Homo sapiens: one gene and its partner. The protein of the gene in region 1 purifies or fractionates together with the protein of each later gene. This does not show direct contact. Each region holds a gene or a part of one and is shown on either strand. Other genes may lie near its edges.

Region 1 (3,657 bases):
GGGAACAGTCTCAGGAGGTCCTGAGGAAGTGTGCCTGAGGCTGTCAGGATGCAGTTTGATTTTATACATTTCAGAGAGGCAGGAATTGTAGGTAAAATCATAAATCAATACATGGGAGGTGTACTTGCCCTCCCTAAAGAGGCAGGACACCTTGAAGGAGGGGGAGCTTACCGGTCATAGGTGGGTTCAGAGATTTTCTGGTTGACGATTGCTTGAAAGAGTTAAACTTTGTCTACAAACTTGACATCAATAGAAAGAAATGCCTGAGTTAAGGCAGTGTTAGAGGCCAAAGGTATGTAGATGAAGACTCTGGGTAGCAGCCTTCAGAGAGAATAAATGGTAAATGTTTCTTTTCAGGCCTTAGAGGCAGCAGGCTCTCAGTTAATCTCTCCTAGATTCAGGGAAGGCCTAGAAGGGGAGAGGTCTGACTGCATTAATGGAGATTCTCTACAGGTGCAAATTCCCCCCCCACAAAACATGGCAGGGCCATTTCAATCTGTTGGTCCTGTTACAGCCGTTTCAAAATATGTCCACAAAATATATTTTTAGGTAAAATATTTGTATTTCCTTTAGGGTCTGCAATCTGTCTTGTGATGCTATACCAGAGTCGGGTTGGAAAGTAAGCCATTTTATACTGAGTTCATGGAAACTCATCCAAGGAGATTTCATGGTTTGTGGGGTGTGTGTGACTTAACCCCTGCCTCACATGACTTTATAATATGGTATCTTACTACTCCAGAGTCTTTTTGGCCAACCTTATGATCTCAATTTCAACCTAAACTCCAAAAGGGCCTGGCTTCTCTTCCTGTTACGGCCAGGAATTCAGATTTTCAGGTTTCTCTGGGGTCCACTTGGCCAAGAGGGGGTCTGTTGAGTTGGCTGGAAGGCATAGGATTTTATTTCTGGTTTACAACAATTTCCTTAGTGCAGCATTGGAATGCAATGGTAGCAGACTAAATGGAAGCTATCGCGTAGACACATGCTTTGGTTGATACTGCACGATTCAGTTAACCTGAAGTACAATCTAATTCATCCTAGGGAAGGAGGCAGTGAACACAGACACAACTCAGGTAGAGCCCTTGGGATGTGTAAACACCTGAGGAGGTAAAGCAAATTGTAATCTCTCGGTTTATCAGATGTCCCCATTGCCTTACTATTTGGATGCTTTAAAGCAGGGCCTCTCAAACTCCACCCAGCACAGAGGCCTCCTGGGATCTTGTGGAAATGCAGATGCTGATTGCAGGTCAGGATGAAGCTGAGATTCTGCCTTTCTTTTTTTTTTTTTTTTGAAACCGAGTCTCACTCCATTACCCAGGCTGGAGTGCAGTGGCACAATCTCAGCTCACTGCAACCTCTACATCCTGGGTTCAAGCAATTCACCTGCCTCAGCCTCCCAAGTAGCTGGGATTACAGGCTTACCTTGCCACCATGCCTAGCTATTTTTTCTATTTTTAGTAGAGATGGACTTTTACCATGTTGGCCAGGCTGGTCTTGAACTCCTGACCTCAAGTGATCTGCCTGCCTCGGCCTCCCAAAGTGCTGGGATTACAGGCGTGAGCCACCATGCCTGGCCTCTGCATTTCTAACGGGCTCTCAGGGGTCACCATACTACTGGATAGAGGCCACACTTGGAGGAGCAAGGCTCTAAACCGAGGGTCAACATCCATTCCTCCAGACACTGGGAGCTGCATGCACGTGAGTGAAGCCAGTTAAGGGGAAGACAGGCATGCACATCAGCTTCTCCTGCAGCCAAGCTCACACCTGTCCGCTGCTTCCACTGCCTCCTAGAATGAACAGTTACCTTGAGAGTAGGTGAGGCATATACATGCACAGAATCCAAACAATAGGATGAGTGACAATGGCAGAGGAGTCTCCGAGCCAAGCAGCTCCCTGGACAGAAGCAGCCCTTCTCCGGGTTCATTTCTGTCCTCCGAGGCTGACTCATGCACTCAAAAGCTCCCATGCATATACATTTTATAATGGTTTTTACACAAAGGTTAGCAGAGGAGTGGACGTGCTGCTCTGTACCCTGCCTCTTTTGCTGTACCTGGGAGATTGTTCTGCCTCAGTTCTGATGGGGCTGCCTTGTTCTTTTCAATGGCTGCTGAGTATCCCATTTTATGGATGTGGTATATTGAGCCAGCTCCCTTTAAGCGAACAGTTTGTTTGCAGTCTTTTGCTAATGCAGGTGTGTTGCTGTGAATAGGTTTGTTTGTATATCATGTATCTGGAAGCATCAATTCCTAGAAATGAGATTCCTGGTATATTAGGATTGTGCAGGGAAACAGAACCACAGATATATGTATGTAAAGAAGTATATTTCAGCCAGGCATGGTGGCTCATGCCTGTAATCCCGGCACTCTGGAAGGCTGAGGTGGGTGGATCTCTTGAGGCCAGGAGTTTGAGACCAGCCTGGCCAACATGGCGAAACCCGGTCTCTACTAAAAATACAAAAAAATTAGCTGTGCATGGTGGCCCATGCCTATAGTCCCAGCTACTTGGGAAGCTGAGATATGAGAATTGCTCGAACCTGGGAGGCAGAGGTTGCAGTGAGCCAAGATCACACCACTGCACTCCAGCCTGGGTGACAGAGCGAGACTCCATCTCAAAACAAACAAACAAACAAAAAACAAAACAAAACAAAAAACAGAAGGAAAGAAAGAAATATATGTATATTTCAAGGAATTGGCTTCTGCCATTTTGGGAGCTGGCAAGTCCAAAATCCCAGGGCAGGCCAGCAGGAAGAGCAGGCCAGAAATTGCAGCAGGAGCTAAGGCTGAGTCCACAGGCGGAATTTCTTCTTTTTAGGGAAACCTCATTTTTCTTCTTAAGACCCTCAACTGATTGGATGAGGCCCATCCACATCATTGAGAATGGTCTCCTTCACTTAAAGTCAGTGGGTTACACATGTTACCCACATCTACAGAATACCTCCGCAGCAATACCTAGATTCGTGTTTGATGGAATCACTGGGGACTCGAGCCTAGCCAAGCTAACACATGAAACACACCATCACAGCTGGGGAAAGGATGGCTTATTTTAGACTGATAAAGATGACCCAGAGAAGGCCTGCTCCATCCACACTGGCCGCTTTAGTCTGCACTAAAGTTGTTGGTTTTTTTTGTTTGTTTGGTTTTTTTTTGGTGACAGAGTCTCACTCTGTCGCCCAGGCTGGAGTGCAGTGGCGCAGTCTCAGCTCACTGCAACCTCTGCATCCTGAGATCAAGCGATTCTCCTGCCTCAGCCTCCTGAGTAGCTGGGACTACAGGCACGTGCCACCACACTCGGCTAATTTTTGTTTTTTCAGTAGAGACGGGGTTTCACCATATTGGCCAGGCTGGTCTTGAACGCCTGACCATGTGATCCATCCGCCTCAGTCTACCAAAGTGCTGGGTTTACAGGCGTGAGCCACCACGCCCGGCCTTGTTGGGGTTTTTTGACAGCCTAATAGGTGAAAATGACATCTCATTACAATCTTAATTGGCATTCTCTTATGACAACAAGCTGGTACATCTTTTTGTGTGTTGAGGGTTATTTCTATTTCTTGCTCAGCAAACAGTTCATCCAGGAAGAGCTTCTTGGTGAGATAGTAGACCTCTGCGATTTCTGTTGCAGACGATCTACATTTTGTCATTTGCTTTGTCATTTTTGTCTATG
Region 2 (3,657 bases), on another chromosome or scaffold:
ATCTTCATTTTAATTAACTGCTTTATAAAAATGGCAACTTTAGGTATAGATAACCTAATTCAGGTTGCAGTTTTAATATTCATTGGGGGCAGTGGAATTGCATGTGTAAATTATGTTAGATATATATCATAACAACCCTAGTGGATTCATGGAATTATAAACGTGATCCAAATTCTACTGTCTTCCAAGAAAGCTACATTTATACATCCAAACAAATTCTTTTCCACAGCTTAAGAGTACCTCATCAGAATACAGTGGTTCAAGTTAAAAAATAAAGTCCATAATGCATATGGTCATCATTCTAGACCTGATAACCACTGAGAACCTGCTGAGCAAGGACGGCTTTTACCAACATTAGCACAAAGGTTTCCTCAGTTTAGACTCTAACATATGACCTGAAACAACTCTAGGTCTGAGTCCTAGAGATTACATAAATAGTGTGTAGCCCAGAAAAGTAAAATAGGTGTCACGCTGTTTTTTTTAATGTCAACACCAATAGGAATCCATTTAGATTAATGTATGTAATTTCTGATAAAAGTAAGAGAAATGAGGAACTTTCGAACTGCAAATATGCCTCCAAACTAGCTTTTGATAAGTGTGGTTTCTGTTATTTGAATGGATTCCCATCTTTGTCTCTAGCCTGGAGAAGAGCAAAATGGAGGGGGAGGGGCCAGAAATAGGAGGAGGTTTTGAAGAATAAAGCCTCATATCCAGGAAAAAGTGATCAAGTGAAAAAGCTGCATCAAGACCCATTTGGCAAGAGGTTGTCCGAAAATAATTCCTTGATCATATCTGAAGTGGTTATTTACTCAAATCAATTTCTCCCCTGCTTCGCTAAGACTGTCATAAAATGGCCTTGACATTTAATCACAGGTTACTTTCCAGAAAGGTTTCTAAAGTTACAGATTCAGCTTTTCAAATTGTCAAATTCACTTTGAATAATAATAGAACCTGGGCTACATTCCTAACTCATATTAACAGCACCAAAAGAAATAGCATATAACCCCATTTTATAAAAAGAAAAACATGTTTTTCTCAGAAATGTATATCACTTCTGAAAACTTATAAGTTTTCTAGCAGTGACCTTATCAACTTGTCAGAAAACAGGCTAGCCAGACATGGAACTGTATTCCAAAAGTCTTCTGTCACTTACGTTCTAAAGAGATAATATGTGTAAATCAATCTCTACTATTGAAAGAACCAGTGTCATATGTCACGGGAGTACATTCCTTTTCAGATCTTCTCAGGGTTATCGTTGTGACTTGGGCTTAAGACTTTACTAGCTATAGTGAAGCCTCATTTAGGATGGGGGTTAAAGCTGAACAGCTATTGCCCTAACTTCCATGTTGGTGACACCAACATTTTTATTAACTCTAATTCAGTACAAAGTAGGAAAGGAAAAAGATTTTGTTCACTTCCTTACTCTCTTGATCAAGTATCATAAAAGGTATTTCAAGTGAAAATGCTTAGGTATATCCTCTGACCCCAGAGGAGTTATAAGCCAACTTGAGAGTAAATTTATAAACATAAAAAGAACTAAAAGAGAACTTTATAAAGGATCTACTCTATTCCAACCTCATATTTTACAAATAGAAAATAAAGAGGCCCAGAGAAGGACAATGACTTGCTCAAGGTCACAGAGCTGGTCAATAAACTCAAGTCTTCTAGATTATAGAAGACATTTATTAGTAAGCATATATGTTATATATAGATGTGAAGTGGCCACTACAGACACCCTTTTGTTCATTTGCCAAAAATGCTGTGAACTCCAAAACTTCAGACTTACATATTTAAATGTGAAGTTAAAAATGTACTGCAAAGTCAAACACAAATAATACAAAAATCATTTACTACTTATCTAAAATATCCATATCATGTTCCACCTACATTACAGTTGGCTTATCACTTCCGGACACCTTGGATTCATTTATTTGATCTCATAAAATCTCCCTAATAATAAAGGTAAAAATTACAAAGAAAATATTTGAATTATATTAGAAAGTGACCATTGTTGAAATATCTCCACTTCCAGCTTTATGTCCAGTGAAATACAGAGGAAAGACTAAATTTAAAATCATTTTCGGAAAATGCCAAACTTTACAGAGATATAAATGCTTCAAGTTACGCTTCTGTCTACTGACATGGAGATATTAAAAAATTCCCTGTTCTGCCTCCATCATTTTTCATTCCACTGTGACCTAACTTAGGCTATTTCAGCTAAGTCGTAAATACCTGTCTGCAATTTGATTAAATCATTTTTAAAAAACGAACGCCTCCACTTTTCAAATGACTTAATACCTTTTCCAAAAAGAACTTTATAGTTCTTATGGCAGTGCAAACCTCATCTGAAAACCTCAGTGGGAACTTTAGAGATAAATATGAGGCCAAACCTTAGCCTGAAAATACAAATGACCATTGGCATTCATGTTACATCATGGGTGAATCTCGTGTGGTGTTTTGACTAATAGTTTTAGTGCCCCAGACCTTGGTTTGTTAAATCATCAGGTAAAAAGTACTTGAAGATAGGCAGCAAATCCTTTGTTTAAAAGTACCTTAGAAAAATTGAGGCTGGGCATGGTGGCCCACTCCTGTAATCCCAGCACTTTGGGAGGCCAAAATGGGTGGTTCACTTGAGTCCAGGAGTTTGAGATCAGCCTGGCCAACATGGTGAAACCCATCTCTACTAAAAATACAAAAATTAGCTGGGCATGGTGGTACACGCCTGTAGTCCAACTACTTGAGAGGCTGAGGCATGAGAATCACTTGAACCTGGGAGGCAGAGGTTGCAGTGCACTGAGATCACACCACTGCACTCAAGCCTGGGCGGCAGAGCGAGACTGTCTCAAAAATAAATAAATAAAGGTACCTAAGAAAAATTGAGTATATTTTCTTGGTAATCAAGTTTTCAAAAGATTGCTCATATAGACATAGTCAATGCAAATTGATCCAAGTGTTCAGATCATTTAAATAACCTCTTCATACCTACTTCACAGCCCTACCTTCAATCCCTGCAGCTTTGCCTCAAAACTAAGGATATTTTAGATTGTTTCTTTGGCTTACTTTATCTAGATAATTGCTCCAAATATCCACCTTGTTGGTGTAGGACTCGGCAGTGGGATCTGAGTACCCCAAATGAATGTGAGCTTTACTTCAGCAGAGAGAAACATTGTTACCATTATATTTCCAATGAACCTTCCAGTAACTTTTTTTCCAACAGATGTGGGTTTTGGCTTGCTTTGCCTTTTGAGGGATGTCTGTAAAAGTGAGAACGTGTCTGTGTATATACATAGACACACATAACAAAACTTAACAGCATTTGATGGTTCTGCCCTTGGCCCTTTATCCCTTTAGGTAATTACTAGATCATTTTGAAGAGAGGGAAGCAAGAATAACTTTTCAATGAGACATTTCCTGAGCTGTGAGGAATTGCCAAAATGAACTGCCATGACAGCATCTTCTGTAGCACTTTTATATTGAGAGCTATCAAGATTTGAGGTTCCTGGTTTTGTTTAAAAAAAAAAAAAGCATTTAGGTCAGAATAACTTACCTGGAAGACTTAAATATACACATTTTTGGCAAAATAAAGTCAGTCTGCATACTTCAGATTTACTGTATACCTGAGATTTGGTGCATACTTGAGGTGTTAATATTCATTCA

The links.
Region 2: the proteins of MX1 (region 1) and TRPC5 purify together in Homo sapiens (pull-down; one study listed by IntAct). This does not show direct contact.

The regions. Positions count from the first base shown.
Region 1 is NC_000021.9:41,453,637-41,457,293, forward strand, and holds part of MX1 (interferon-induced GTP-binding protein Mx1), read left to right. Parts: intron 1-3,657.
Region 2 is NC_000023.11:111,771,641-111,775,297, reverse strand, and holds part of TRPC5 (short transient receptor potential channel 5), read left to right. Parts: 3' UTR 1-3,657. UniProt on the Homo sapiens protein: Forms a receptor-activated non-selective calcium permeant cation channel. Mediates calcium-dependent phosphatidylserine externalization and apoptosis in neurons via its association with PLSCR1.